2 separate regions of the Homo sapiens genome follow, and region 1 is linked to region 2. The links come from fine-mapping of genetic effects on gene expression. A gene starts in region 2. The other region holds a variant in brackets. All regions are shown on one strand. Distances are between the middles of the regions. Region 1 overlaps XPNPEP3 (X-prolyl aminopeptidase 3). Region 2 holds the start of RBX1 (ring-box 1).

The links.
Region 1: its variant is fine-mapped to the expression of RBX1 in monocytes after Pam3CSK4 (Quach 2016, PIP 0.95).

What each region holds. Positions count from the first base shown.
Region 1 is chr22:40,863,539-40,879,584 of GRCh38, reverse strand. It overlaps XPNPEP3 (X-prolyl aminopeptidase 3), which reads right to left. Exons shown (of 10, transcript NM_022098.4): 2 at 10,470-10,586. LOC124905124 (a long non-coding RNA gene) reads left to right here and starts at 1,990. Exons shown (of 3, transcript XR_007068111.1): 1 at 1,990-2,176; 2 at 3,437-3,522; 3 at 3,934-4,238. The variant G/ACG (reference allele first, on the strand shown) is at 11,157.
Region 2 is chr22:40,939,126-40,954,870 of GRCh38, reverse strand. RBX1 (ring-box 1) reads right to left here and starts at 3,493. Exons shown (of 5, transcript NM_014248.4): 1 at 3,395-3,493; 2 at 1,238-1,316. The coding sequence starts at 3,472. RefSeq lists enhancers at 2,173-2,761, 3,217-3,426, 3,941-4,531 and a silencer at 3,477-4,056.

The DNA.
Region 1 (16,046 bases), 75 kb after region 2:
CAGGCATGAGCCACCATGCCTGGCCTAATTTTTCTATTTTTAGTAGAGATGGGGTTTCACCATGTTGCCCAGGCTGGTCTCGAACTCCCGGCCTCAAGCAATCTGCCTGCCTCGGCCTCCCAAAGTGTTGGGTTTACAGGTGTGACCCATGTCCCATGGCCTAGGATCTAATTGTTTTACCTATATATAGTTTATCTCACCAGCAAATTCTGTAACTTGTATTCCATTAATAAAATATTTTTATTTAACTTTTCGGACATCTACAATAGAAACAAATTTATGTTTTTGTTGATGAAGTTGGCAAGAAATAAGAGAGAGTGATAAGTGGAGGCCTTACGGGCCAATGTGAAGCAGCTGAAGCAACAAAATGGGGCCAAGAAGAGCTCATATCACATTTTTTTCTTTCAAGATTGAGCTGGCTAAGAGTCTCCTAGGTTTCTTAGGCAGAATACTGAACTTTGTACTACAGCTATTTATTTCCTTGATAATTATTCATGTTAAGTCTGCCACTGTTACTCAACATTGAAAATTTCCTAATTTACTCAAGTAGTAAATACTCTTACAAAAGCAGAGGCTGGTTATAACTGATGAATTATCCGACCTTTCCTTTTTTTCATCTTATTTTCTTCCTTTCCTGAACTTTGCTTTTGGCTATTTCACAGCTATAGTCCATAAAATAAAAAGAAATTTAAAAATCAGCTGGGTGCAGTGGCTCACGCCTATAATCCTAGCACTTTGAGAGGCCGAGGCAGGCAGATCACCTGAGGTCAGGAGTTCAAGGCCAGTCTGGCTAACACGATGAAACCCTGTCTCTACTAAAAATACAAAAAATTAGCCAGGTATGGTGGCGCACACCTGTAGTCCCAGCTACTTGGGAGGGTGAGGCAGGAGAATTGCTTAAACCCAGGAGGCAGAGGTTGCAGTGAGCTGAGATCACACCACTACATTCCGGCCTGAGCGACAGAGTAAGATTCCGTCTCAAAAAAAAAAAAAGAAAGAAATTTAAAAATCAATTCTTTTTTATTTCAGAAGGTAAGAAAATCCATAATTTTAATAACTATGTGTTATCTCTCATTTTCATTAGTAACAGTATACATTAACACATATCAGGAAGTTACTTCTAAAACAAGAAAATTATTTGGAAATCAAAGCAGGATCAAAAAAACCATCTTTTATACCCTTCAAAGTATTCCTATGTTTGCTGAATCCAATTTCATACAATTGACTACATGAGAAATATTTAAAACACTGGCTATATTTTCCCAAACCTATTAATTATCAACACTATTGAGTGATCATTAAGTAAATGCTTCTAAACTTCTAAAATCTCAACGCAACAAAGCACTCTCCATCACAACACATTTTTTTTTTTTTTTTTGAGATAGAGCTTTGTTCTTGTTGCCCAGGCTGGAGTACAATGGCACAATCTCGGCTCACTGCAACCTCCGCCTCCCAGGTTCAAGCAATTCTCCTGCCCCAGGTTCCCAAGTAGCTGGGATTACAGGAATGTGCCACCACGCCCGGCTAATTTTGTATTTTTAGTACAGATGGGGTTTCACCATGTTGGTCAGGCTGGTCTTGAACTCCTGACCTCAGGTGATCCACCGGCCTCGGCCTCCCAAAATGCTGGGATTACAGGCGTGAGCCACTGTACCCAGAAACAAAAAATTTACTCAAGAAAAAAGAAACCTTTCCATGTGAAGGAGGAAAAAAAATGTGTTAAAGCAATGACCTTTAAACCCTAGGAGTAAACTTGGAAGGTGTTATGGCCTTTGATCACAGAACTCAACTTTATAGTCAATCTGGCCTGAATTTCTTCTGATAAAACTATATCTCAATAGATCCTCAGGCAACGTGGTAAAACTGTAAAGAATTAAAAAACAAAGTCAGCATTTTATGATGTGGAACCACTTAAGATGGAAAGGCTCTTCTAACAAGTTTATTGAGCCAATCGAAAGCCTAGATATTGGAAGCTGGACTCTGCAAAGTCTCACTATCAGTTCTGAGATTCTGCAGCCAAGAAGGAAAGCTCTTCCAGGACACTTAAGATCATGCCTCTCGAAGAGAAAAGCAATAATGTTCTTCATATTTTACCAGCTACACAAAACACCCAGAAAGGAAGATATAACAAAGACTGAAAATGGATGAAATGATACAGGTCTCTACTACAATCTAGGTTTGTATTTTTAATTATTTCCTGAAACTAACTAGATTAGAATTTTAACATGGTCTGATTTTGAAAAGAAGTCTGCTTAATATTAGGTAGTTTTCGCAGCATATAAGGAAGTAATTAATAAACTATTACTGTGCAGTTGGAGAATGGGGTGAAAGAAAAAGCTAGTGTTTCCTTTATAATGTAAAACAGGCCTCTCAGAAAAAATGCAATGACTGAATAAAAAATACTCTAAATAGATTTGCATATATTGAGCAAAACTAAACAAACAGAAAGGCTACATATACATATTATGATTCTGTATGATTCTACTTACACAAAGTCAAGAAAAGGCAAAACAGTCTATGATGACAGAAACCAAAAGAGTGGCTGCCTATGAAGGTGGAGACTGACTGGAGGAGCATGAGGGAACTTTCCAGGACGATGGAAATGTTCTGTATCTTGACTGAGCTGTAGGTTACCTTTGTTAAAGCTCACTGAACTGCATATGTAAGATCTGTGAAATTCGCTGCATATAAATTTTACCTGATTTAAAAAAAGTATACTACTCTCCAAACTTGAAATAACTTTTATACTAAGACTTCTCTCAGATGGATGTCTTATAAAAAATGTAAGGAGAAAATACTTTAAAAAATATTACCAGATAGTATTTTTTGGCATAGGTATTATACACTGTTTTGTGGTTGAAAGTGTGGATTCTGAGTTAGGTTTTTGTGAGTTGGAATCCTGGCTTAGCAATTCACTGAGTGACACAGGTATTATGTTTGGCATAGGTATTATGCACTGTTTTGTGGTTGAAAGTGTGGATTCTGAGTTAGGTTTTTGTGAGTTGGAATCCTGGCTTAGCAATTCACTAAGTTTGGAAAGAGCTACCAAACTTCTCTGTGCCTCAGTTTCCTCATGTAAAATGGAAATAACAATAGCACTGACTTCACAAAGTTGTTATGTGGATTATACAATAATCCACCTAAGTGGATTTAAGTAATAAAACACTTAAAACGTAACACTTAGCACTACATAAGTATTAGCTATAATTATTACCAAAATAAAAAATTTACACTTGAACTGGTTGTCACCCGGGAATCCAAAGCCAGGCAGGATCTTAGAAGAGTAAAATTTACATGGACAACCGCTATTATGACAACAAATGAAATCAAAATAATTATTTACATAGAAGACCTGGAAGTCTTTGGCTTTTTCACATGTTAGGAATGAATCTCCATTGACCATTTAGAAACTTTTCATTATTATTCATTTCTTTAGGTAGCTCCTAATTCTTGTCTAGGGCTGATTCTTGCTAATCTTTACCTCAGAGAGTTTCTCAGTGTCAATGAGGACTACACACAAAGGTAAAAAAGAGAAATACAAATGTCATTTATTTATTTATTTTTTGAGACAGAGTCTTGCTCTGTTGCCTAGGCTGGAGCACAGTGGCGCAATCTTAGCTCACTGCAACCTCTGACTCCTGGGTTCAAGTGATTCTCATGCCTCAGTCTCCTGAGTAGCTGGGATTACAAGCATGCACCACCATGCCTGGCTAATTTTTTTTTTTTTTTTTTTTAGTAGAGGTGGAGTTTGCTACGTTGGCCAGGCTGTTCTCAAACTCCACGCCTCAAGCAATCGGCCCACCTTGGCCTCCCAAAGTGCTGGGATTATAGGTGTGAGACACCGTGCCCAGCCAAGTCATTTATTTTTAATTTTCTAGTATTTATACTACATGAAAACTTTATTATATTTCAAGATTTTCTATTTCTCCCTAGGGCTTAAAAACAAACAAACAAACAAACAGGGAAATCCTCTATAATTCTTCACTAGATGGTGGTTTACAGATTATTGGTATAATGGCATCCTGAAATGGTCTATCAATATGTACTAGACATGTAAGTAAAAAACAGGTTTATTCATCTATAAATTTATTTACATAGAGACTACATTATTTATTCTGCATTAAAATTGAATCAGGAGATGAAGACAAGAGGAAACATTTAATCACTATGAATACAGTGATTTAAAAAAATTATATAAGTAAGCCCTGGCAACAAAGTGAGATCCCATCTCTACAAAAATTTAAAAAATTAGCCAGGCATGGTGGCTTATGCCTGTAGTCCTAGCTACTTGGGAAACTGAAGTGGGAGGATCGCTTGGGAGGTCGAGACTGCAGTGAGATATGATCATGCCGCTGCAGTTTAGCCTGGGAGACAGAGCAAGACCCCATCTCAAAAAAAGCAAAAACAAAAACAAATAAAATTACATAGGTACATTGGGGTGAGAAAATAAAATATATTACTTTATAAAACAGGTGGGCTTCATGGTGAAGTACTTATAGAAAAAGTAGACCTTCAACTTAAATTTAAAACCTGTAGGATACAAAACTTTTAGTCTACTATTCTATCAGGTATAATCTATTAAAAAAGTGTTGAAATGGTTAGATAAATGTAACGTCATCACTTATTGATGGTGGTGATGATGATAAAGATGTGAATGAATTTAAGGACTGAGTGACTGGGGATGAGACTACAGAGGCATGTGGAAGGCACATTCTCTGCTTTAAAACATGACCAATGGCCACAGAACTGGCTTGTCCCCTTAAGTCATCAGGCATCTCATGCACCTAGCTAAATGAGTACCCACTAGGTTAGTGGTGTATGTGAGAAACGCCCGGGGAGCTCTTCAAAACACATGTTCCGGTTGGGTATGGTGGCTCATGCCTATAATTCCAGCACTTTGGGGGGCCAAGGTGGTAGAATTGCTTGAGTCCAGGAGTTCAAGACCAGCCTGGGCAACATAGTGAGACCTTATCTCTATAAAAAATATAAAAATTAGCTGGGCATGATGGTGCATGCCTGTAGTCCCAGCTATTCAGGAGGTTGAGACAGGAAGATTGTTTGACCCCCGGAGGTCAAGACTCCAGTGAGCCATGATCTCGGCACTGTACTCCAACCTTGGAAACAGAGTGAGACCCTGTCTCAAAAAAAACAAAAACAAAAACACATGTTCTAAGCCCTCCCTTTGAGATTCTCATTCAACAACTCTATTTATAGAGTCCTAGCACGTATGTATATTTTGAAAAAGCTTACCCAACAGTCTAGGCAGGTTCAAACCACTTCCAATTTCTGTTATTTCTTGATTCCTTTTAATTTTTTAAATTCTTCTGAGATAGGGTAACACTCTGTCACCCAGGCTAGAGTGCAGTGGCGCAATCATGGCTCACTACGGCCTTGACCTCCTGGTCTCAAGCATCATTTTATTTATTTTTTATTTTTCTTCCTAACTCCCCAAAGTTGTTATCAAGCATCATTTTAATCTTTTAAATAGTATAAAAATCTTACCACCACCAAAATAAGCTTTGTCTTTTAGATATTATTAAAATCAACCATATTTAACAAGTTTTAAAAATAAAATGCATCCCTTGCTCAAGAGACGGCTACAATTAAACTATCACTGAAAGATGGGCAGCTGATTTTGAAACTCTTAAGGGAAAAAGATTTGGGGATTATTATCTATAACCCACTCTAGAATCAATCATTTCATCATTTTAAATATTATATTCACTGTAACTGTACTGTCTCTGCCATTATATTTATTTATTTATTTTATTTCTATTTTATTTTATTTTTGAGACGGTCTTGCTCGGTTGCCTAGGCTGAAGTGGAGTGGCACAATCTCAGCTGACTGCAGCCTTGACTTCCCAGGCTCAAACAATCCTCCTACTTCAGCTTCCCAAAGTGCTGGGATTATAGGCGTAGCTAGGACTACAGACATCTGTCAACACACTCAGCTAATTTTGCTTACTTTTTTGCAGAGATAAGGTCTCACTACGTTGCCCAGGCCTCCCAAAGTGCTGGGATTATAGGCGTGAGCCACCGCACCTGGCTTCTGCCATTATAGTTGACGATAGAGATGAAACGGTAAATGGTGAAAGCATCGTCTTATATTTCATGCCACACAGTTGCATTCTGATTATTTCCCTAAAAATCTGTTTGCTGCTGTAGTTGAAAACCAAGAAGTGGGCCAGGCATGGTGGCTCACGCATGTAATCCCAGCACTTTGGGAGGCCAAGGCAGGCAGATCACAAGGTCAGGAGTTCAAAACCAGCCTGACCAATATGGTGAAACCCCCTCTCTACTAAAAATACAAAAATTAGCCAGGTGTGGTGGCGCACACGTGTAGTCCCAGCTACTCTGGAGGCTGAGGCAGGAGAATTGCTTGAATCTGGGAGGCGGAGGTTGCAGTGAGCCGGATCACGCCACTGCACTCCAGCCTGGGCGACAGAGCGAGACTCTGTCTCAAAAAAAAAAAAAAAAAAAAAAAAAGAAAAAGAAAAAGAAAAAGAAAACAACCATGAAGTGGTTCTACATATGTCAGACAAGTTATTCTGACAAGCCCAACTCCCTGAGTAGCCCTTTTTAAACCTAGCATTCCAAACTATACCACATATTCTAAAACTAATTTTAAGAATGTAAAAATTTTAGAAATAATGCTTCATTAGGAATTCCACTGATTCTTCCCGTTCATTCTCTGATATGTTTCAGTGTTTTTTTGAGATGAATGTCTTGCTGTCCTGCTAATGACAACATTACTCCTTTGGCAATAATCAGGGAACCATGGAAGCATCTTTCTTGTACAGATAATATAATATAATCTGTACAATCTGTAAATATCGCTGGGTGTGGTGGCTCACACCTGTAATCCCAGCACTTTGGGAGGCTGAGGCGGGTGGATCACCTGAGGTCAGGAGTTCGAGACTAGCCTGGCCAACATGGTGAAACCCCATTTCTACTAAAAATACAAAAATTAGCCGGATGTGGTAGCAGGCGCCTGTAATCCCAGCTACTTGGGAGGCTGAGGCAGCAGAACTGCTTTAACCCGGGAGGCAGAGGTTGCAGTGAGCAGAGATTGTGTCATTGCACTCCAGCCTGGGCGACAAGAGCGAAATTCCGTCTCAAAAAAAAAAAAAAGTAGACTCACAGTTCAGAATGCCACTTGCCTTCCTACATGGAATCATTTTCATGTCTGAGTGTCAAGTGTGAGACAAGGTAGTAATCAAAGAGACTGACCAACATTTTCCATCTCTACCGATACAGACCTTAGCACAGAGATGGCACTGTCATAAAAAGCAGAAATGGTCTACAGTGCTCAGATTTCTCTAAGGAAATGACAAGTTTTGAAAATCACTAGAACCTAGCCGTAAAATCACAGAACCTAGCACAGCCAGAACAGAATTTCTTTATTTCCTGTATCATCCTGCTAAATATTTTCCAAGCTATTGATGCTTCAGGAAACTTGGATAGGTAGGTATGGCAAAGAAAAATCTAGGAAAAATAGCTCCCAAGAATTCAGAGGAACTGGCCCAGTAATTTCACTTTTGTTTTTGTTTTTGAGACAAAGTCTCACTCTGTTGCCCAAGCTGGAGTGCAATGGCGTGATCTCAGCTCACTGCAACCTCTGCCTCCCAGGTTCAAGTGATTCTCCTGCCTCAGCCTCCTGAATAGCTGGGACTACAGGCATGCGCCACCATGCCCAGCTAATTTTTCTATTTTTAGTAGAGACGGGATTTCACTATGTTGGCCAGGCTGGTCTCGAACTCCTGACCTCGTGATCCATCCACCTCAGCCTCCCAAAGTGCTGGGATTACAGGTGTGAGCCACCGCGCCTGGCCCCAGTAATTTCACTTCTAAGAATTTAAGGAAATAATAGAGCAATATGCAAAGAATGTGTACACATGTACACTTATACACACATACACCTATGTAAGAAATAGGACTAAAAAGAAACATATACCAAAATCCTCTCAACAGTGGCTTTCTCTGAGTTGTGGGATTATTAGTAATTAAAAAAAAAATCTATGCTTACCTGTATTCTCTTTTTCTGTATGTATAGAACTTGCGTAATAATTAGGAAAGGCATTGAGATGTTTCCCAAAAGTATTAAGTACATACTGCCATGTATTAGAGAAATATGCAAAACATGAAACCTTTTGGAGAAACCAAGTGCACATTACATAATTTTATATCCTAAACTAACAAGCCAACTGCGTAAGAGACTTTTTTTGAGAGAGAGAGACACGGTCTCATTCTGTCACCCAAGATGGAGTGCAGAGGCATGATCACAGCTCACTGCATCCTTGACCTCCTGGGCTCATGCAATCCTCCCACCTGAGTCCCCCGAGTAGCTGAGACTATAGGCAGGAGCACTAATTTTTTTTATTTCTTATAGAGACAGGGTCTTGCTATGTTGCCTATGCTCGTCTCGAACTCCTAACCTCAAGTGATCCTCTCATCTTGTCTTTCCAAAGTGTTGGGATTATAGGCGTGAGCCACTGTACCTGGCCTAAGAGACTTTTTAAGTATTACATGCCTTTAAATTTTTTTTCCTTTTTTTTTGAGACAGAGTCTCCCTCTGTCCCCCAAGCTGGAGTGCAGTGGCACAATTCTGGCTCACTGCAACCTCCGCCTCCCAGATTCAGGTGATTCTCCTGCCTCAGCCTCCCCAGTAGCTGAGATTATAGGCATATGCCACCACACCCGGCTAATTTTTTTTTTGGGGGGTATTTTTAGTAGAGACAGGATTTCACCATATTGGTTAGGCTGGTCTCAAACTCCTGGCCTCAGGTGATCCACCCACCTTGGCCTCCCAAAGTTCTGGGATTACATGTATGAGCCACTGCGCCCGGCCCCTTTTAATTTTTCTTAAAAATTTACTCTGCTTCACCCTACAATCACTTTAACACTTCCACAAGTTTTGCATCTCTGGAAGGAGAAACACAAATGATTAATTCTTTTGATACTTTTGTCTGCAGAAAAATCTGTACCTAATGGTACATCTGATAGTTTGAGGTTTAAAATACTAATAATTCTGTTTTAAAATTCCATCTACTTCCATCCCTTCTCACTTACCCCAATGTCCAAAATCCCACGTCTAGGAGAGTAAAATTAGGACAGGCATCCCTTTTCCCCCAGATATTCACATACATATGTATGTGAACATATACGTGTACATATTTATTTACATTCACTTATACTTAACATGCACTTAAGGTATAGAGCAAAAAAATCTAGATACAGAGGCCATTATCTTGACAATATAATTACTAGGTTTAAGGCCTGGAAAATGCAGCTTACCATGTAAAAATATCTCACCACAAGAAATCAGTAATTTTCAAAGCTGGTAAAACTATCAATTCTACTTAAAAAAATAACTCGAGTCTACAGGTAGGTTGATAGGGTAGATAAATACTAAAATTAATACCAACTGGGTTGCTATTAAGCTTACCTTACAGCTTTGAAAAACTCTGATTTCTTGTGGGTTTCAGTGGTGAGCTGCATTTCCTTAGTTTCAGCCGACTTCCCAGCAGGAATTCGAGTCTGATGAAAAATCAGCAAAAGGAAGCCCTCACTGAGAAACATACTGGTATCATTCACTGAGTGGGGATAGTGAAAAAGGAACATATTTCTAAAGGTAAATTTCCATTAGTAATATATATGCTTATATGGCAAATACATATTTAATTTCTTATGGCAGAAAGAACAATTAATTTTCCTTGAAAACCTGATTGCTTTTTCTACAATGTGTTTGCTTTTACCCTACCTTCCTCTCTGAGATATTCATTAGTCATAGTTCACCCCTTAAGTGCAAGAAATCAAAACAAAAAACCTTTAGGTCTAAATTTGAGCAATAGTTATAAGACATCTTCTGGCAGCAACGCTGGGATCTTATAGCAGAAAAAAAAATTAGTAAAACAAACCTTTATCATTTTTTTGCATCACCTTTATCAACTGGGATACTACCTCTCAAATCTGTGACAAACAAATCTGGAAATCTTGCTTAATCTATATAGAAATAGGTTATAATTTTAAAGTAAATATTTGATAATTTCAAGAAAAAACATGTTTTCTAAAATGTCTTTAACACAGTAATTCACAATAGTATACAATTCTAAAAGCTGACTTAGAAATAGAACTTTGCTTTAAAAACATCCTGAAATACATACCTTTCATTAATTATTCTGAATTATAAGGTCTATCATATTTAAACCTTGTTCTAGACTAGTATTGTCAATAAAGCACCAGTACCCACATGTAGTTAAGCTTAAATTTAAATTAATTAAAATTAAATAAAATAAAAAGTTCAGCTCCTCAGCTGTACTAGCAACCTTATTAGTGTAAAATGGCCATGTGAGGTTAGTGGCTACCTTATGGAACAGCACAGATCCAGAGCTTACTGCAAGAAGTTCTATTGCATAGCATTGCTCTAGACAGAACCTAAATGGGGAGATAGCACAGTTAAAAGGCCTTACCTGGTCTGAGGAGGTGTGGGTGTGTAAAGGGGCTGGGCTGGCCTAAGTATCGGTTTGGAATCCTCCTTTCTGGGACAGGCTGAAGGGAGTACCTTCGCTGTGAACACAACATACATCCTGAATGAAGAATAAAGAGAATGAAATGAAACAATAGATCTAGAAAGTCTTCATGGTATAAATACACTTATCTCTAGCAGTTTAGATGCTTTAGAAAAATGCAAACTAATATTTCCTTCCTTCTCTCCTTCAATATTCATTTATTTTTTTTTTAAGACAGAGTCTCACTCTGTCACCCAGGCTGGAGTCAGTGGCATGATCTCGGCTCACTGCAACCTCCACCTCCTGGGTTCAAGTGATTCTCCTGCCTCAAGCCTCCTACATAGCTGGGATTACAGGTGCGTGCCACCATGTCTGGCTAATTTTTGTAGAGACGGGGTTTAATCCTGTTGGCCAGGCTGGTCTCGAACTCTTGACCTCAAGTGATCCGCCCACCTCGGCCTCCCAAAGTGTTGGGATTACAGGCATGAGCCACTGCACCTGGCCCTCCTTCAATATTTATATGGCCTTTGCTCTGTGTCAGACTCTGTGTTGGGCCTTAGGAAAACAGAAATGAGATCTTTACCCTCAGAGACATTTGTCTGCTATAATATTTTATACACATACACACACACACACACACACACACAC[G/ACG]CACACATATATAATAAAGGTATGAATAAGGAGCTATGAAAACAGAAGAAAGGAACCAAAAAAGGCAGGGGAAGGATATCACAGAGGCAGTTTGAAAGGGTATCACAGAGATAGCATAAAGCTGTGTCCTAAAACTCAGGAAAAGATAATCAACATTTTTTATTGAGAATATGTTAAGCATGAGAAAATATGCACATGCTATCTCATTTAATCTTGGAATGTCAGAGCTAGATAAAATAATTTATGAAAAATGCTTAATCATAGAGTACAACAAATGTTAGTTATTAGCATTAATTAAAAAATTCTTTGCACATGATTGGAACATGCTCAAAGAAAGACACATGAATGACAAGGCTATATGCTGTGGTCTTTAAAGAATGCACAGTCTAGTGGAGGTGAGACAAAATAGAGCATTACAATATTAAATGGTGAATGCAACAGTGGATTCACACATAAGGAGTTTTGTTTGTTGGGTTTTTTTTTTTTTTTTTTGAGACAGGTCTCACTCTGTCGCCCAGGCTGGAGTGTAGTGGCATGATCATAGCTCACTGCAGCTTTGTTCCTCTGGGCTTAGGCAATAAATGAAATGAAACAATAGATCTAGAAAGTCTTCATGGTATAAATGCACTTATCCATCTCCAACAGTTTGGATGCTTTAGAAAAATGCAAACTAATATTTCCTTCCTTCTCTCCTTCAATATTTATTCATTTATTTATTTTTAAGACAGAGTCTCACTCTGTTGCCCAGGCTGGAGTCAGTGGCTCAGCCTCCCAAGTAGCTGGGACTACAGGTATGTGCCACCAAGACTGGTTAATTTTTTTTATTTTTGGTAGAGATGAGGTCTCACTATGTTGCCCAGGTTGGAAACCCACACCAATTTCTTTGTAATCATCTTAGAAGCTATGATTTTTCTTTTTTTTAAATCTTTTTAGAAGAAGCTATGATTTTTCTAAACAATCTTCTACAAACTGGAATTAACTTTTAAGACTCTTCTCTCCCAAATACATATATTATTATTCATAATTCATAGTCCTTACAGAAATTGTATGTTCACAAGGAGATTGTACAGTATTGATTGTTGAGATTAAACAGAGAGGACCTAGTGAGCGGCAAGGGGGAGGGATAAGAGCAAAGATTATGAAGTCAAATAAACCTGAGTTTGAATCTCAGCTTCTCTGGTACTAAGTGTGTAACCTTGTCCAGATTACTTCTCTGAGTCTGATTCTGTGTTTGTAAAATAATGATGATAATGCCTACCTCACGTGACAGTTAAAAATCTAACTCCTTAATTTAGAATACAAAGCCTTCAAAGCTATCTTACCTTCCTAATCTTTTCATCTCCCTCCAGCAGCACTAACCCACTGGTGGAGTAGGCTGCTGTTGCATTGGTGATTTCTCTTTCTCTCCTCCTGCACCTTCTCCACATGCACGCTCGTGCACACGTACTCATGCACACATAGTGTCTTCTGTAATCTCATTAGGCAGTAAAATTTCAGAATATAAAAAGTTAACTGATTCCTTTTTCAATGCTCATATGAAATAATCCTAGCATATTTTGGACCACTCTCAAGCAGAGGGAGCTTAACTTTATTAAATTCAAAGCAAACAAGTAACACTTTAACAGGAGACATAAATTAAGATGTTTATTCCCAGTAAATTTTTAAAAAAGGTCTCAATAGCTTTTTACTTACATTAAACATCTTTTGCCCGAAGTCATATAATTAGTAGCAAAGCTGGTGTGTTAAGTCCTATTTCAAAAATATCCAGTTCATAAGCTTCAAACTCTTTTGCTTAGGAAACTTCATGATTTGGATCCTGCTCCCTTATCTGACCTAATCCTCAAAAAACATTATTGCAGCCACACTAAGCTACTTGAAGAACCCCGGCTAAATCATTCTGCATCATAATAGCATTTGCATTAAAAAATATAGTTCTCTTAGTCTAAAGTGGACACTGCCTGCTTATACGATTACAGAAATTCTAAAAAATACCAGCTCAAACATCACTTACGCAAGAGACTTCTCTTACTCTTCTCACACCTACTGCCTCTGTTCTGCTTGTTTCAGATGTCTTCCCCAACGCTCCTATGATTTCTATTTTAATACCTACTACACTTCACATAATTGCTAATTAGTTTGCCAGTCTACTATGAACAATCTTTGGAAGCAGAGATCACTTGTTATTTGACTTTATTTTCCCAGTGACTTGATTTGAAATGTATTTTGAAGTTAAAAGTCAATGAGTCTGGCTTCTAATTGGACATAAGAAATAAAGAAAAAAGAGGAATTAAGAATAATTCTTGATTTTTGACTTGAACAAGTGAATAAATGGTTGTACCACTACATGCAACAGGAAAGCCTGAGATATTTATTGGAAATAAATTTAATGGAGAGGTCAAAGAGCAATCTTAATTTCAGGGAGAAAAGTGCTAGGCTAGATATATAAATTAGGGTGTTATAAGCACACAGATGGCATCTAAAGCCCTGGGAATGGGTATTACCCAGGGAGACTGAACAAAGCCTGGCACTGTAATATTTTAGTGTGAGAAAGAGCACAGGAGAAAGAAGGAAAACTAGAAGAGTACAGTATTTAGTGCTGGGCATGGTGGCTCATGCTTGTAATCCCAGCACTTTGGGAGGCCGAGGCAGGCAGACAGATCACTTGAGGCCAGGAGTTCGGGACCAGCCTGGCCAACATGGCTAAACCCTGTCTCTACCCGCTGCCCCCCCGCCCCCCACAAAAAAAGAGTGTGGTATTTAGGAAGTTAAAAAACAAGTGTTTTAAGAAGTGGGGAGGACTATGCCAGGCGCAGTGGCTCACACCTGTAATCCCAGCACTTTGGGAGGCCGAGGCAAGTGGATCACCTGAGGTCGGGAGTTCGAGACCAGCCTGACCAACATGGAGAAACCCTGTCTCTACTAAAAATACAAAATTAGCCAGGCATGGTGGCACATGCCTGTAATCCCAGCTACTCGGGAGGCTGAAGCAGGAGAATGGCTTGAACCTGGGAAGTAGAGGTTGCAGTGAGCCGAGATCACACCACTGTACTCTAGCCTGGGCAACGAGAGTGAAACTCCATCTCAAAAAAAAAAAAAAAAAAAAGTGAGGAGGGCTCACAGTGTGGCAAGTGCTTCAAAATACAAGGAAGCCAAAAGGACAACCACTGGATATGGTAACATCAATCACTGGAGACCCTGGCGATTTTAGCAGAGTAAAGAAGACAGAAGACAGATTGGAGTATGCCAAGGAGGGAATAGGATGTAAGAAAGCAAAGACACTGAGACAATACTCTGGATAAGTTTTGTTGTGAAGAGGCAGAGAAAATGGCACAGCGGATGGCTGGGAGGCAAAGGATCAACAAAGAAGGGTATAACTGCAGAAACAAGTGCTCGTATTATAACTTTACACTCCACTGAAATTAGTTTTTTCAAACTATATGAATTTCTTAAGAGCAGAATTTCCTATTTTCTACCTTTTCTCTGTATCATAGTGTCAGAGGCGTTTGAACCAGAGCAACTCCATCTTCAGTAGGGGTTTGGTAAAATAAGGCTAAGACCTACTGGGCTACATTCCCAGTAAGTTAAGGCAGTCTTAATCACAGAATGAAATAGGAAGTCAGCACAAAATGCAGGACACAAAAACCCTGCTAATAAAACAGGTAGGTTATAGTAAAGAAGCTGACCAGCTGGGTGCGGTGGCTCATGCCTGTAATCCCAGCGCTTTGGGAGGCTGAGGCGGGCAGATCACCTGAGGTTGGGAGTTCGAGATCAGCCTGACCAACATGGAGAAACCCCCTCTCTACTAAAAATACAAAATTAGCCGGGCGTGGTGGTGCATGCCTGTAATCCCAGCTACTCAGCGGGCTGAGGCAGGAGAATGGCTTGAACCCGGGAGGTAGATGTTGCAGTGAGCCAAGACCCCACCATTGCACTCCAGCCTGGGCAATAAGAGCGAAACTCCACCTCAAATAATAATAATAGTAACAATAATAATGAAAATAAAATAAGTCCCTGTCAAATTTAGACACTGCGAACATCTTCTCCTAGACTGTCACCTTCCTGTGAGCTTTACCTGTGATGTTCTTAAAAAAAGGAGCTGGCCAAACCCCACTAAAACTAAGATGGCAATGACAGTAACCTCTGATTGTCCTCACTGCTACACTCCCACCAGCACCCCAAGAGTTTACAGATGCCATGGCAACGTCAGGAAGTTACCCTATATGGTCTGAAATGGGGAAGCATGAATAATCCACTTCCTGTTTAGGATATAATCAAGAAATAACCATAAAAATGGGCAACCAGCAGCCCTTGGGGCTGCTCTGCCTATGGAGTAGCCATTCTTTATTCCTTTACTTTCTTAATAAACTTGCTTTTACTTTACTCTGTGGATTCCACTGAAATTCTTTCTTGCACGAGATCCAAGAACCATCTCTTGGGGTCTGGATTGGGACCCCTTTCCGGTAACAGCAGGTTCTCAGTATCTGTTTGTGGAATGCCTAGAACCTAAACTCTTTAAGTCCTAGTCCGAGAAATGCAGTAGAGTGGAATGAGAACTTGAAATTAGACTCAAGTTTAAAAATCAGATTTTTCACTAACAAGCTATGTAGCCTTAGACAAATTACTTTCTCTCTCAGAACGTCTGTTTTCTTATGGGCATAAAATATTTATTTTGCTAGAGTGCTGTGTCAGTTAAATGAGCACTTGCTACAGTGTGACTCAGAGGGTACTCAAATAATTTTCGACATTATTGGTTATTATTTCCAGTGGTAGGCAAATTATAATCATGGGTAAGCCACACATAAGTACATGTAAGCACATACACTGGAGAGAATTTAAATTGAGTTTTAAGCATTTCACAATACCTCTAAAAAATGAGTATATATAAAAATG
Region 2 (15,745 bases):
AGGTTGCAGTGAGCTGAGATCACGCCACTGCACTCCAACCTGGGCGACTCCATCTCAGAATAAGGAAAAAAAATGGAAAACTGGCCGGGGCCATGGCTGCTTTGGCCACCGTGGTCAGTTAAAAAAAAAAAAAAGCATCCAGGTAAACTAACAGAGTGAGCAGGAGTGACTCAAGACAAAGTTGTAAAGGCAGGTGAGTGATCTGAAAAATAAGTTCCTATAATTCCATTTCTAGAAACTTAAAGTTTCTTTCCTCCATTTCTGGCCTCAGTAACAAATCATTTTAGTTCCCGGATGAAAAAGTAACCTCAACTGTTCCTGGTGTGATCAACATTCTTGTCCCTTCTACTGTAAGGACAGGAAATCAGTTCATCAAAGACTATAATCAGATCACTATGTGCTGACCACTACATGTAATAAAATATGTGGAGATTTAAATGAAATTTCTTTAGTGCAATTAATTATTTATTTAGATGTTGGCAATGATTTCCTTTTTATTATGTTTGGGCCTAACATACAAAATCCTCACTCCTTAACGCTTCTTTCCTTTGTAAACAATGACCAGCAAAAATTAGATCAGATAGACTTTTTTTTTTTTTTGAGACTTTGAGTCTTGCTGTGTCGCCCAGGTTGTAGTGCAGTGGTGTGATCTCGGCTCACTGCCACCTCTGCCTCCCAGGTTCAAGCAATTCTCCTGCCTCAGCCTGCCAAGTAGCTGGGATTACAGACATGCACCAGTACGCCCAGCTAATTTTTGTATTTTTAGTAGAGACAGGGTTTCACCATGTTGGCCAGGTTGGTCAACTCCTGGCCTCAAATGATCTGCCCGCCTTGGCCTCCCAAAGTGCTGGGATTACAAGCATGAGCCACTGCGCTTGGCCTCAGAATATTTTAGCTCAAAGTTTATTTTCCTCCTTTCACTATTTCTACCTTTGAGTCTAGGTACAAGATGGAAGATATGCAGGAAAAATCAACAGTGCCTGTCGTCCACAATTAATTCTAAATGTGTCCCTGCCATCTTTAGATTGAGTAGATTTATTCTGAGAGCTGGGTATGCCTCCAGGACATCATAAAAAAACTACTCTATTTCAAACACACCAACAGACTAGATACAGAAGACCGAGTGCTCAGAGTAGGCTTGCTATCTCCTCGTGTGAAGAAGAAAATCAGTCACATCAAGATAGCCACAATCTCTGCAACCTTCTCAACTTCCTCCCATCCTCCTCCAATTACTTACAAAGATCCATAATGTGGTTCCTGCAGATGGCACAGTTATCAACCACAATATCCCAGGCCCAGAGGGCTACTGCATTCCACTGCAAAGACAAAAAGAGGGAACAGTGCATTCTGCTTGTAACACACACACATACTCTTTAGGACCTCAGGCTGCAGCTGCAGTTATCATCTCTTTGGCCACAGGGAACCACCAAACAAAAGTTTTTGGATATTACGTTAATCTTATTATACCAAAGACAACAGTAGACTACACGTATGTTCTATTCTCCAAAAGGCTGAGTATATGAACACAGAAATTAATGTCATCTTTTAATTTGTTTCCTATAGTTTAAAATAATTTAGTCTGGCCGGGTGCAGTGGCTCACGCCTATAGTCCTAGCATTTTGGGAGGCCGAGGCGGGCCGATCACTGAGGTCAGGAGTTCAAGACCAGCCTGGCCAACATGGCAAAATCCTATCTTTACTAAAAATACAAAAATTAGCCAGGCCTGGTGGCGGGTGTCTATAATACCAGCTGTTTGGGAAGCTGAGGCAGGAGAATCGCTTGAATCTGGGGGACGGAGGTTGCAGTGAGCCAAGATCGTGCCACTGCACTCCAGCCTGGGCGACAGAGTGAGACTCCATCTCAAAAAAAAAAAAAAAAAAAAAAAAAGGGCACAAACTTGAATTTCTGTGCAGGTTTTGGTGGCAGTTGCAGAAGAGCTCAAAATCTGAATAAGTATCTGCTCTACACAGCTCTGGAAGCATGAGCAATGAAGTGAAAGCTAGAGAACAGAATGAACTAAGATAATGACTGGATCATAAAATGGGTAATCATGGGATAAGCTGGATAATTAAATACCCGTGTCAGTACACAGAACAAGGTCATCACTTAAATCTTAGATTACTTCATAACAAATTCTACAATTCACTAGAATTTTGATTCTTACCATAAAATAAACTGATGTTCTCAACTTTTATATGTTTAGACTCTTCTATTAAGATAATAATTCCAGTAAGAGTTTAACAGAATTTCATTCATTCAACTCTGGCTTCCTCAATTACAAATACTCCCAAACCTTCTTCGCTTTCAAACCCCATTCTCAGTGCCTAGTAACTTCTTTACCACTTTTCACATCACAGCTTCAAGGTGGAGGAAAAGCCCCTACTTCTATTATTTTTCAATATGGCTGCTGGCTGTAACTGAGCAGCAGTGGCCACAATGAGACACCAAAAAGCACTAGGACGGGGGATATTGTCAGTGTTTAGCCAGATGTTCTAGGAATATCTTCCCTATTTTAGAATCTCCATTTTGAACAGCTTTCATGTTAGGTGAGAATCGATACTGTTCTCCCAAACTGTGGCAAACCACTAAAAGGCATTTCATGCAAAAAGACACGTTCCATTTTTGCTTTCCCACGCTTACCAAGTCGTTCGCGACTAGTACTCAACCCTCCCTAACTGCCACAGGATTTGGGCTCGGATTTTCTTAACAAGTTCCACCATGCTTTTTATTATTATTTTGGAAGGGGGAGATTCTGGACGTGACAGAGAACCCAAGAGTGGGGTGGTTGTGTGAAAAGCCAACAGACGTCTCAGAAGAGCCAAGCATTACACTCCAGACTCTAACCAGGCAGTGTGAGGCCTCGGTTCAGCGAGGATCCCTCCAAGTGAGAGGACCCCTCCAAGTGAGAGGACCCCAAGCTTCAAAAAGGGGCGGAGCAAGATCACCAAGGGGGGTCCTCAGAGGCCTCTAATGCGGTAGGACCTCAGGTTCCAGGCTCTCGCCGCACTGCCCCATCCTCCACCGCCGCATTCGCTTCGACTCCCCATTCCACCCACCCCACCCCACCCTACCCTGTCCTTCCCCCACCTCTCAACCACTCCAGTGACAGCTCAAGCGCTTGGCTCCCGCCGCCAAGTCGCAACCCCGCGTATCTCAATAAGCAGCTCTGTGATTGGCCCCTTAGCCTCACAGCGAAACCAACACTTCCCCCAACAGTGGGCCGCCGTCACGCCGATCAACTCTAAGACCCGCCCCCCGGCTTCCTTTCGTGGTACCCGGTCCCAGGAACGCCCTGAAATGAAACCCTTTACTCCGCGCCTCGACCATCCTCGGGCCTGCCAGCCAGATCCGCGCCTCTCTAGCTTCCCTGAGGAAGGCGCTGGCGAGACCCAACCTTTTTCACTTCAAAGCGCTTCTTGCCCGCGCCGCTGTTGGTGCCGCTCGGGGTATCCACATCCATCGCTGCCGCCATTTTGGAAACACACGGTCTGTCGTCCGACCACCGCGCCTGCGCAGCAGCGCACACTTCGCTCCCCCCACCTCCCCGGCACCTCCTCCCGCACCCCACCCCTTACTGGCGCGCGAGGCGGAGGTGGGGGCGGAGCACGTGACCACGCCTCTTAAAGGGGCTGTCGCAGGTCGCCCCACCCGCGAACTGTAGGCCGGGGAGGGGGCGGTGGCCGGAGTGGGTGGGGCGGGGCCGGGCGGGGCCGGGCGGGGCCGAGGCTACGTGAGCTAGCCGGGTGGAAACGTTCGAAAGGGCTCGACGTCGCCGCCTCCTCTGGGAAGCCCCCGGCCGCACTCCGTCAGCTGGGGCGGCGGCTGCTTCCTCCGCCTGAGCCAGACCTGCGCCGCAGTCCTGTCCTGCCTGCCGGGCTCGCCGAGTCGCCGCGCGGCTCCCGGTGCTGGCGTGGGTGGGCGCCCGCGGCCTGCCCCGAAACCCAAGAGTCCTCGCTGGTCTTTCGCAGACTCTGACCCGCTTCCGAGCCAGGCCCAAGGTGCAGTCCCCGTGGGAGGGCTGGGGCCCAGGCACCGTCTGGTCTCCGATTTCTGTTCGGGAACTGCTCAGGGATTCGATGGGGAGAGAGGAGACCCCCGAAGTTCCTCCCTAAGGCCACACTGAGCAGGCCCCCAGCCCTGCCTTTACTCGCCCGCCAAGCCTGGGGGGTGGCCTCTGCGCCCACATAGTCGCAGTCCTAGGACCGCCTTTGGTCGTGGTGCACGGTTTCACCGTAACGTGTGTCAGTCCCCACTCCGCATTCCTCAGTTGTCATCTTTGTAGGGTGATTTCTCCCCGATCTGTGTCCTTTTTCCGCTGCTTGTGCTGTAGTGAAACCGACCCATCTGCAGTCGCTGTATTTCTTGAATTTTTGTGAGGCATTCTTTTTTAACTCTTGTTGCCCAGGCTGGAGTGTAATGGCGCGATTTCGGCCCACTGCAACCTCCGCCTCCAGGATTCAAGCGATTCTCCTGCCTCAGCCTCCCGAGTAGCTGAGATTACAGGCGCCCGCCACCACGCCCGGCTAATTTTTTGTATTTTTAGTAGAAACGGGGTTTCACCACGTTAGCCAGGCTGGTCCCGAACTCCTGACCTCAGGTGATCCGCCTGCCTCGGCCTCCCAAAGTGCTAGAGCCGCTTTTTTTTTTTTTCTTTTTTAATTTTTTTAAAAAATAGAGACAAGGTCTCACTATGTTGCCTAGGCTGGTCTCGAACTCCTGGGCCCAAGTGATCCTCCCACTTCGGCCTCCCAAAGTGCTGGGATCACAGGAGTGAGCCATCCCACCCGACCCAAGCACCTGTACTTTGTCACTCTCCCATTTCTGGCTAGACCAGGACTCCCTTTGACATCTCTAACCTTGCAGAGGTGTGACTCTGCCAGAGCACTCTTAGATGTCGTACAGGTGCATTTGAAGCCTTGTATTTTCTCTTAAAAGATAACTGGCGGGTAATGGAGCGTGCTGACTCTATTGCTAAAGAGAAAGAATAGGCTGGGCGCGGTGGCTCACGCCTGGGAGCCACTTTGGGAGGCCGAGGCAGGTGGATTACCTGAGGTCAGGAGTTTGAGACCAGCCTGGCCAACATGACGAAACCCCGTCCCTACTAAAAATACAAAAATTAGCTGGGTGTGGTGGCACGCGCCTGTAGTCCCAGCTACTCAGGAGGCTGAGGCAGGAGAATCTCTTGAACCCGGGAGGTGGAGGTGGCAGTGAGCCGAGATCGAGCCACTCTACTCCAGCCTGGGTGACAGAGCGAGACTCCGTTCCCCCCCAAAAAAAATAATAAAAGAGAAAGAACTGAGATTTGTTTGTTAGTTATAAACAGCAACAACAGATCCGGGAAAAGACCACCACAGCTTTATCCAGACTTGGAAAGAAAAATTGTGTGAGACCTTAAAGGGCTACAAGAACCCTACAAAGTTTTTCTTAGCCCAAGTTTTAATGACTTTGTTAAAATTTCTGTTGTTAATTTGTTGTGTGCCTACAGGCCCTGACAGGAATACTAGAAACCCATTGTAAATTAAGGTCTTGAAGACATATTTATCAATCATTCAATAAAAGTATTGATATTTACCAGGTTCTGTTTTAAACAGAAGAGACATAATAACAGAGTCAAATAAACCCCTAGTTAGGGAATAATATGCAAGTCAACAAATAAATACATCAAGAAGTCTCAGGGCCAGTCGAGGTGGCTCTAGCCTGTAATCCCAGCACTTTGGGAGGCCGAGGTGGGAGAATCACCTAAGGTCAGGAGTTAGAGACCAGCCTGGCCAACATGGTGAAACCCTGTCTCTACTAAAAATACAAAAAAATTAGCCGGGCGTGGTGGCGGGTACCTGTAGTCCCAGCTACTCAGGAGGCTGAGGCAGGAGAATGGATTGAACCCGGGAGGTGGAGGTAGCAGTGAGCCAAGATCGTGCCTCCAGCCTGGGCAACAAAGTGAGAGTTTATCTCAAAAAAAAAAAAAAAAGTTTCACGTATCCGCCAGGCGGGGTGGCTTAGGTCTGTAATCCCAGCACTTTGGGAGGCCAAGGCAGCCGGATCACTTGAGTCCAGGAATTCCAGACCAGCCTGGCCAACATGGTGAAACGTCTCTACAAAAAATACAAAAGTAAGCTAGGCGTGGTGGCACATGCCTTTAGTCCCAGCTACTCTGGAGGCTGAGGGGGGAGGATTACCTGAGCCCATACATGGAGGTTGCAGTGAGCTGAGATGGCGCCACTGCATACCAGCCTGGGTGACAGAGCGAGACCCTATCTCATAATAAATTAGTAAAAAATGCTGCATTGAAAAAAGTCTCTGGCCGGGCATGGTGGCTCATGCCTGTAATCCCAGCACTTTGGGAGGCCGAGGTGGGTGGATTACCTGAGGTCAGGAGTTCAAGACCAGCCCAGCCAACATGGCAAAACCCCATCTCTACTCAAAATACAAAATTTAGCCGGGTGTGGTGGCTTGCACCTGTAATCCCAGCTACTTGGGAGGCTGAGGCAGGAGAATTGCTTGAACCCGGGACGTGACAGTTGCAGTGAGCCAAGATTGTGCCATTGCACTCCAGCCTGAGTGACAGAGTGAAACTCTGTCTCAAAAAAAAAAAAACAGTCTCAGGTATCAATAAGTGTTGTGAAGAAAACAAGGTAATGAGATTGAGGGGAGAAGGAGGCAACAGTAAATTGGGTGATTAAATAAGACTTCTGTGAAGAGTGACATTTAAGCTGAAGTCCTTTAAATGGTCCTACATGATCTACTTCCCCATCCAATTTACATGTACCTTCTAACATATTTTTTCTAAGTTGGGCATGTGGTCCCAGCTACTCAGGAAGCTAAGGAGGTGGGAGAATCCCTTGAACCTGGGAATTCGAGGCTGCAGTGAGCTGAAATTGCACCACTGCACTCCAGCCTGAGTGACAGAGCAAGACCCTATCTCCTAACAAACAAACATATTTTGACATTTACTTGTGTATTAGGATTATTGTTTTTTGTATGTCCTCAGCAAGAAAAGGGAATTTTGATTTGTTTATTGGTAACAAAAACTGGTACATTGTATGTGCTCATTATGTGTTGAGTAAATAAATTTGGAGCTTACTGAGCAAGCAGAAAGTAGTAAGAGATGTCAGAGAGGCAGGCAGGGGCCAGAGCATGCAGGGATTTTATTACAGATCTTATGGGAAGGCATTGAAGGTTATTATTTTTTTTCTTTTGTATGGTCTTGCTCTCTTGCCCAGGCTGGAGTGCAGTGGTGTAATCTCAGCTCACTGCAGCCTCCAACTCCTGGATTCAAGCGATTCTCCTTCTGCAGCCTCTCCTGTAGCTGGGATTATAGGCACCCGCCACCAACGCCTGGGTAAGTTTTTGTATTTTTAGTTCAGGTATCCTCCAGGAAGGGTGGCTTGCGCCTGTAATCCCAGCACTTTGGAAGGCCAAAGCGGGCAGATCACTTGAGGTCAGGAGTTCAAGACCAGCCTGACCAACATGGTGAAACCTCATCTCTACCAAAAATATAAAAAATTAGCCAGGTGTCGTGGTTCGCGCCTGTAATCCCAGCTACTTGGGAGGCTGAGGCAGGAGAATCGCTTGAACCCAGGAGGCAGAGGTTGCAGTGAGCTGAGATCGTGCCACTGCACTCCAACCTGGGCAACAGAGAAAGACTCTGTCTCAAAAAAAAAAAAAAAGAACAAAAGTCTTAGAACTGAAAAATGCAAATAACTGAATTTAAAAACTCTCAGTGGATGGGATCAATAACAGAATGGAAGTGACATTTTTCCCAACAGAAGCTGGGAGGAAAAAAAGACATGGAAGTGACAGAAGAAAAAAAAATAACTGAACTGGAGGATAGAACAGTAGAAATAAGGCTGGGCGTGGTGGCTCACACCTCTAATCCCAGCACTTTGGGAAGCTGAGGCAGGTGGATTGTCTGAGCTCGGGAGTTCGAGACCAGCCTGGGCAACATGGTGAAACCCTGTCCCTACTAAAAGTACAAAAAATTAGCCAGGTGTGGTGGTGCGTGCCTGTATTCCCAGCTACTCAGGAGGCTGAGGCAGGAAAATCACTTGAACCTGGGAGATGGATGTTGCAGTGAGCTGAGATCGCACCACTGCAATCTAGCTTGGGCAATGGAGTGAGACTGTCTCCAAAAAACAAACAAACAAACAAAAAAACAATAGAAATTACCTGATCTGAACAAGAAAGAGAAAATAAAAATAGACTGAAAACAAAATTAAAAACAGAGCCTGTGGACCTGTGGAAATACTACAAAAGATCTACTATTTCTGTCCTCAGGGTTCCAGGAGGAGAGAATAAAGAGGGCCAGGTTGAAAAGGTAATGGGTAAAATAATGGCTGGATACTTGCCAACTTTGGCAAGAAAAATCTATAGATTCAAGAAGCTGAGCAAACACTACACAGAATACACCCATAGAAATCCATGCCACAACACATCACAATTAAACTTCTGAAAACTAAAGAGAGAAGAAATCTTGACAGCAGCCAGAGAAAACACCTTACCTAAAGACGAAAAATCATTTGAATGGCAGATTTCTCACTGCAAACCACAGAAGCCAGCAGAAGTGGCAAAATGTTTTTCATGCAAAAAGCGAATACAAAAAAACACCTGTCAACTCAGAATGCTATATGTAGTGAAAATGTCCTTCAGGAATCAAGGGGGAATCAAGACATTCTCAGAAGGAAAACTAAGAGAATTTGTCACCAGTAGGCCTTCCCCAAGAAAGGGCTAATGGAAGTTCTCTAAAAAGAAAGAAAACAATAAAACAAGGACCTTGGAAAATTAGAAAAAACAAACACGAAAGTAAAAATATGGGCAAATGCAATAAGCTTTTCTTATCCTTTTGAGTTTTCTAAATTATGTATGACAGTTGAAGTAAAAATTCATTTTGGAGACAGAGTCTTGCTCTGCTGCCCAGGCTGGAGTGCAGTGGGGCCATCTCGGCTCACTACAACCTCCACCTCCCGGGTTCAAGCAATTCTCATGCCTCAGCCTCCCAAGAAGCTGGGACTACAGGTACTTGACACCACGCCTGGCTAATTTTTTGTATTTTTAGTAGAGATGGGGTTTCACTGTGTTAGCCAAGATGGTCTCAATCTCTTGACCTCATGATCTGCCCACCTCGGCCTCCCAAAGTGCTGGGAATGCTATAATTTTTACTTTAGGTCGGGCGCAGTGGCTCATGCCTGTAATCCCAGCACCTTGGGAGGCCAAGGCAGGCAGATCACCTGAGGTCAGGAATTCGAGGCCGGGCGCGGTGGCTCACGCCTGTAATCCCAGCACTTTGGGAGGCCGAGGCGGGTGGATCACGAGGTCAGGAGATCGAGACCATCCTGGCTAACACGATGAAACCCCATCTCTACTAAAAATACAAAAAAATTAGCTGAGTGTGGTGGCGGGCACCTGTAGTCCCAGCTACTCGGGAGGCTGAGGCAGGAGAATGGCGTGAACCCGGGAGGCAGAGCTTGCAGTGAGCTGAGATCGCACCACTGCACTCTAGCCTGGGTGACAGAGCGAGACTCCGTCTCAAAAAAAAAAAAAAAAAAAAAGGAATTCGAGACCATCCTGGCCAACAAGGTGAAACCCCGTCTCTGCTAAAAAAAAAAAAAAAAAAAAAAAAATTAGCTTTGCATAGTGGCACATGCCTATAATCCCAGGTACCCGAGAGGCAGAGGTTGCAATGTGCTGAGATTGTGCCACTGCACTCCAGCCTGGGTGACAGAGCGAGACTCTGTCTCCAAAAAAAAAAATTATAGCATTATCTAATATAGTCCTAAATCTATATGGAGAAAATATTTCAAACAATTATCGTATAAACTGGGAATGGTGAAGGGACACAGAGGGAGGTAAGGTTTTTATATTTCTCTCAAACTGGTAAAATGATGACATTAGTAGACTGTCATAAGTCATGTATATATGAGCCATCACTTAAAAAGCTATACAAAGAGACACACTCAGAAGAGAAACACTATAGATAAAATGGAATTGTAAAAAATGTTTAACACAGAAAGGCAGAAAAACAGAGAACAAGCAGAAAACAAAAAATAAAATGAGGTGGGGCACGCTGGCTCGCATCTGTAATCCCAGCACTTTGGGAGGCCAAGGCAAGAGGATCCCTTGAGCCCAGGAGTTCGAGACCAGCCTTGGCAACATAATGAGACCTCATCTCTACAAACAATACACACACACACACACACACACACACACACAGACACACACACACAAACATGAGTGTGGTGGTGCACAACTGTATTCTTAACTACTTGGGAGGCTGAGGCAGGAGGATGACTTGAGCCCACCAATGTCAAGACTGCCGTGAGCTGCGATTTCGGCACTATACTCTAGTGTAAGTGATAGAGTGATACCTTGTCTCAAAAATAAAATAATCACTTCAACCTGAGGAAGCTGATTAGAAAAATAGAAAAAAATAAAATGACAGACTTCAGCCCTAACATATCAACAATTGCATTAAATGCAGATGGTCTAAATATGCCAATTAAAAGAAATTGGCAGAGTGGATTTTAAAAAAAACCAGTTGTATGTTATCTGCAACAAATTCACTACAGATATGATATAGGCAAGTTGCAAGTAAAAGGATGAAAAAAGTTGTGTCATACAAGCATTCATCAAAGGAAAGCAAGAGTGACTATACTAAAATAAACTAAAGTGGACTTTGGAGCAAAGAAAATTAACGTAGAAAGAGCGGGACATTATACGATGCTAAAAGAGTCAATCCACTAAGAAGACATAGCAATCCTAAATATGTATGCACTAAAAAACAGCACTGCAAAACATGTGAAGTGAAAACTGACAGACCTAAAAGTAGAAATAGATAAGTCCAAGCCAGGTGCAGTGGCCCACACCTGTAATCCCAGCACTTTGGGAGGCCGAAGTGGGAGGATTGCTTGAACATAGGAGTTGACTGGTCTGGGCAACATAGTGAGACCCTGCCTCACAAAAAATAAAAAAAAATTAGCCCAGCATGGTGCCACACACCTGTGGTCTCAGCTACATGGGAGGCTGAGGTGGGAGGATCTCTTGAGCCTAGGAGGTCGAGGCTGCAGTGAGCCATGATTGCACCACTGCACTACAGCTGGGTAACAGAGTGAGACCCTGTTTCAAAAAAAAAAGAAAAAAAAATCTAATGACTTAGGCAAAATTGATCACTTCCTCAAAAACAAGTTACCACAAGTCATCCAAGATGAAATAATTTGAATAGCCCTATAACTTTTTTTTTTTTTTTTGAGACAGAATCTCACTCTGTTGCCCTGGCTGGAGTGCAGTGGTGTGATCTCGGCTCACTGCAAACTCTGCCTCCCGGCTTCAAGTGATTCTTGTGCCTCAGTCTCCTGAGTAGCTGGGACTGCAGGCACATGCCACCATGCCTGGCTAATTTTTGTATTTTTAGTAGAGGCGGGGTTTTGCCATGTTGCCCAGGCTGGTGTCGAACTACTGACCTTAAGTGATACACCTGCCTTGGCCTCCCAAAGTGCTGGTATTACAAGCGTGAGCATGGGAGGTGGAAACTGTAGTGAGCTGAGATCGTGCTACTGCACTCCAGCCTGGGCAGACCCAGAACTTGTCTCAAAGGAAAAAACAAAAAGTTGAGGATCATCTATAATTTTATGAAGCTAGTTTTACTCTGATAACAAAACCAGACAGAGTACAAAAAAGAAAACTACAGAAATAATAACTGTCATGAATATACACACAAAAATCCGCAACAAAATATTAGCAAATGATAGCTACAAACATTTTTAAAATTTTTGTTAATGGGACAAAATATTAGCAAATATAAAAATGATTATTCACCATGGCCAAGTGGGGTTTTTTCCAGGGATGCAAGGCTGGTTCAATATTTCAAAATAAATCAATGGATTCTTCCATATTAATGGGCTCAAGAAGAAAAATCACATGATTATATCAATAGGTGCACACAAAACATTTGCAAAATTAAACATCCATTCATGATATAAATTCTCAGAAAAACAGAAGTAGAAGGGGAACTTCTTCAATGTGATAAGGAGCAGGTACAAAAACCCGCCGATGTTATACCTCTGGTCCTCTGTATCTGTGGATTCAACCAACAAGGGATCAAAAATACTTGGGGGAAAAAACCCAATAAGGATGTTGTGTTTGTACTGAACATGTACAGCCTTTTTTTCCTTGTCATTATTTCCTATCTAGACTATATGGTACGTCAACTATTTACATAGCATTTACATTGTATTATAAGTAATCTAGAGATAATTTAAAGGATGCAGGAAGGTATGCCTAGGTTATATGCAAATACTACACCATTTTATCTCAGGGACTTGAAGATCCTGGGATTTTGGTATACGTGGGGGATCCTGGAGCCAATCCCCCATGGACATCAAGGGACAAGTGTACTTAATGGTGAAATGCTGAATACTTTCTCCTAAAATTGGGAACAAGGCAAGAAAGGCCTCATCACTCTTTCACTGTTATTTATTATAGCACTAGAACTTCTAGCCAGTGGGACAAGACCAAAAAAAAAAAAAAAAAAAAAAAAGGAAGTAGCCAGGCGCAGTGGCTTACGCCTGTAATCCTAGCACTTTGGGAGGCTGAGGCGGGTGGATCACCTGAGATCAGGAGTTCCAGACCAGCCTGGCCAACATGGTGAAACCCCGTCTCTACCAAAAATACAAAAATTAGCCAGATGTGGTGGTGTACACCTGTAATCCCAGCTACTCGGGAGGCTGAGGCAGGAGAATCGCTTGAACCAGGGAGCCGGAGGTTGCAGTGAGCCCAGATCGCACCATTGCACTCCAGCCTGGGTGGCAGATTGAGACTCTGTCTCAAAAAAAAAAAAAGGGAAGTAAAAGGCATACAGGTTGGAAAGGAGGAAATAAAACTGTCCCATTTTTAGATGACACATGGTTTATGTAGAAAATCTCAAGGAATCTAGCAAAACTCTTACAACTAAATGAGTTCAGCAAGGTTACAGAATACATGATAAACATACCAAAATCAATTGTATTTGTATATACTAGCTAAGAATATGTGGACACTGAAATTGAAAGGAATATGCCACTTCTAATCATCCAAAAAGTGAAATAGTTAGGTGTAAATCTAACAAAACATACTTCAGACTTGTGTGCTGAAAACTACACAACACTGATAAGAGAAATAAAAAATATATGTATATTTTTGAGACACAAGCTCCCTTTGTTGCCCAGTCTGGAGTGCAGTGGTGTGATCTCAGCTCCCTGCAACCTTGGACTCCTGGGCTCAAGCAATCCTCTTCCTTCAGCATTCCGAGTAGCTGGGACTATAGGCGTGTGTCACCATGCCCAGCTAATTTTTTGGTATTTTTTGTAGAGATGTGTCTCACCAAGTTTCCCAGGCTGGTCTCCAACTCTTGGCCTCAAGCAATCATCGCTCCTCAGCCTCCCAAAGTGCTGAGATGACATGCATGAGCTACCATACCTGGTCTACACATTTTTTTACAATAAATAGACATACGGTGTTCATGGGTTGGAAGATTCAATATTGTAAAGATGTCAGTTTTCACCAAATTGATATACAGTTTAACAAAATTCCTATCAAAATCCCAGTAAGTTTTTTTTTTATTTATAGACAAGATGATTATTTTATTTTTTTCTTTTTTGAGACAGAGTCTCGCTCTGTCACCCAGGCTGAAGTGGAGTGGTGGGATCTCGGTTCACTGCAACCTCCACCTCCCAGGTTCAAGTGATTCTCCTGCCTCAGCCTCCCAAGTAGCTGGGATTACAGGCACCTACCACCACGCCTGGCTAATTTTTTTTTTTTTTTTTTGAGACGGAGTCTCATTCTGTCGCCCAGGCTGGAGTGCAGTGGCATGATCTTGGCTCACTGCAACCTCTGCCTCCCAGGTTCAAGCAATTCTCTTGTCTCACCCTTCTGAGTAGCTGGGACTACAGGTGCCCACCACCACGCCTGGGACTACAGGCGCCTGCCACCATGCCCAGCTAATTTTTGTATTTTTAGTAGAGACGGGATTTCACCATATTGGTCAGGCTGGTCTCAAACTCCTTACCTCAGGTGATCTGCCCGCCTCAGCCTCCGAAAGTACTGAAATTACAGGCGTGAGCCACCGCGCCCAGCCAATTTTTGTATTTTTTTAGTAGAGATGGGGTTTCACCATGTTGGCCGGGCTGGTCTCAAACTCCTGACCTCAGGTGATCTGCCTGCCTCCACCTCCCGAAGTGCTGGGATTATAGGCATGAGCCACTGAGCCGGGCCTATTCTAAAATTTACATTAAAAGGCAAAGGAACTAGAATAGCTAGAACAATTTTGGAAAGGAAAAATAAAGTGGGAGGAATCTCTTTACCTGCTTTCAAGACTTATTTTTTACGACTGCAGTAATCAAGACTGGTGTTGGTGGAGGATAGACACATAGACCAATGGAACAGAATAGAGAACCCAGAAAAAGACTCACTCAAATATGCCCAACTGAATTTTGACAGAGGTACAAAAGTAATTCAGTAGAGGAAAAACACACCATTTTTAACAAATGGTGCTGGAGCAATTGAACATCTGTAGGCAAACAAAAACCAAACCAAAACAAAAAACCCTTGACCTATGTCTCACATGTTATCCAAAAATTAACTCAACGTGTATCATGAACTTAAACCTAAAACTATAAAACTTTTAGAATTAAGGCCAAGCGCGGTGGCTCACGCCTGTAATCCTAGCACTTGGATTACAAGTAATCCCGAGATTACAATCTCGGGAGGCTGAGATGGGTGGATCACTTGAGGCCAGGAGTTCAAGACCAGCCTGGCCAACATGGAGAAACCCGATCTCTACTAAAAATACAAAAATTAGCCGGGCATGGTGACGGGCGCCTGTAATCCCAGCTCCTTGGGAGACTGAGAGGCATGAGAATCGCTTGAACCTGGGAAGCAGGGGTTGCAGCGAGCCGAGATAGTGCCACTGCACTATAGCCTGGGTGACAGAGTGAGACTCTGTCTCAAAAACAAACAACAGCAAAAAAAGCCAGAAAAAAAAAAAAAACTTAGAATGAAAGAGGAGAAAATTTGCAGGATCTAGGGCCAGACAGAATTCTTAGACTTGGCACCAATAATAGCATGATCTATAAGTGGAACAATCGATAAATTGAACATTAGAATTTAAAACTTTTGCTCTGTGAAAGGGCCAGTTAAGAGGAGGAACAGACAGCTATAAAGTGGGAGAAAGAATTTGCAAACCACATATCTGACAAAGCACTAATAGGTAGCATATATAAAGAAAGAATTCTTAAAATTCAGCTGTCAAAAAACAATCCAATTAGAACATGAGCAAATGGCAGGAAAAGAGATTTCATTGGAGAGGATATATGTAATACAAATGGCAAGTAAGCAGATGAAGAGATGTTCAACACCATTAGCCATCAGAGAATGCAAATTAAAACCACAACGAGATATCACTACCAATCAGAATGGCCAAAAAAACCCAAAAACAAAAAAAATCAGTGACAACACCAAATGCTGGTGAGGAGGTGGAAAAACAGAATGACTCATACATTGCAGGTAGAAATGCAAAATGGTACAGTCACTTTGGAAAGTTTGCCAGTATCTCCAGTATCTTTTTTTTTTTTTTTTAGATGGAGTTTTGCTTTTGTTGCCCAGGACGGAGTGCAATGGTGTGATCTTGGCTCACTGCAACCTCCACCTCCTGGGTTCAAGCGATTCTCCTGCCTCAGCCTCCCAAGTATCTGGGATTACAGGCATGCGCCACCACACC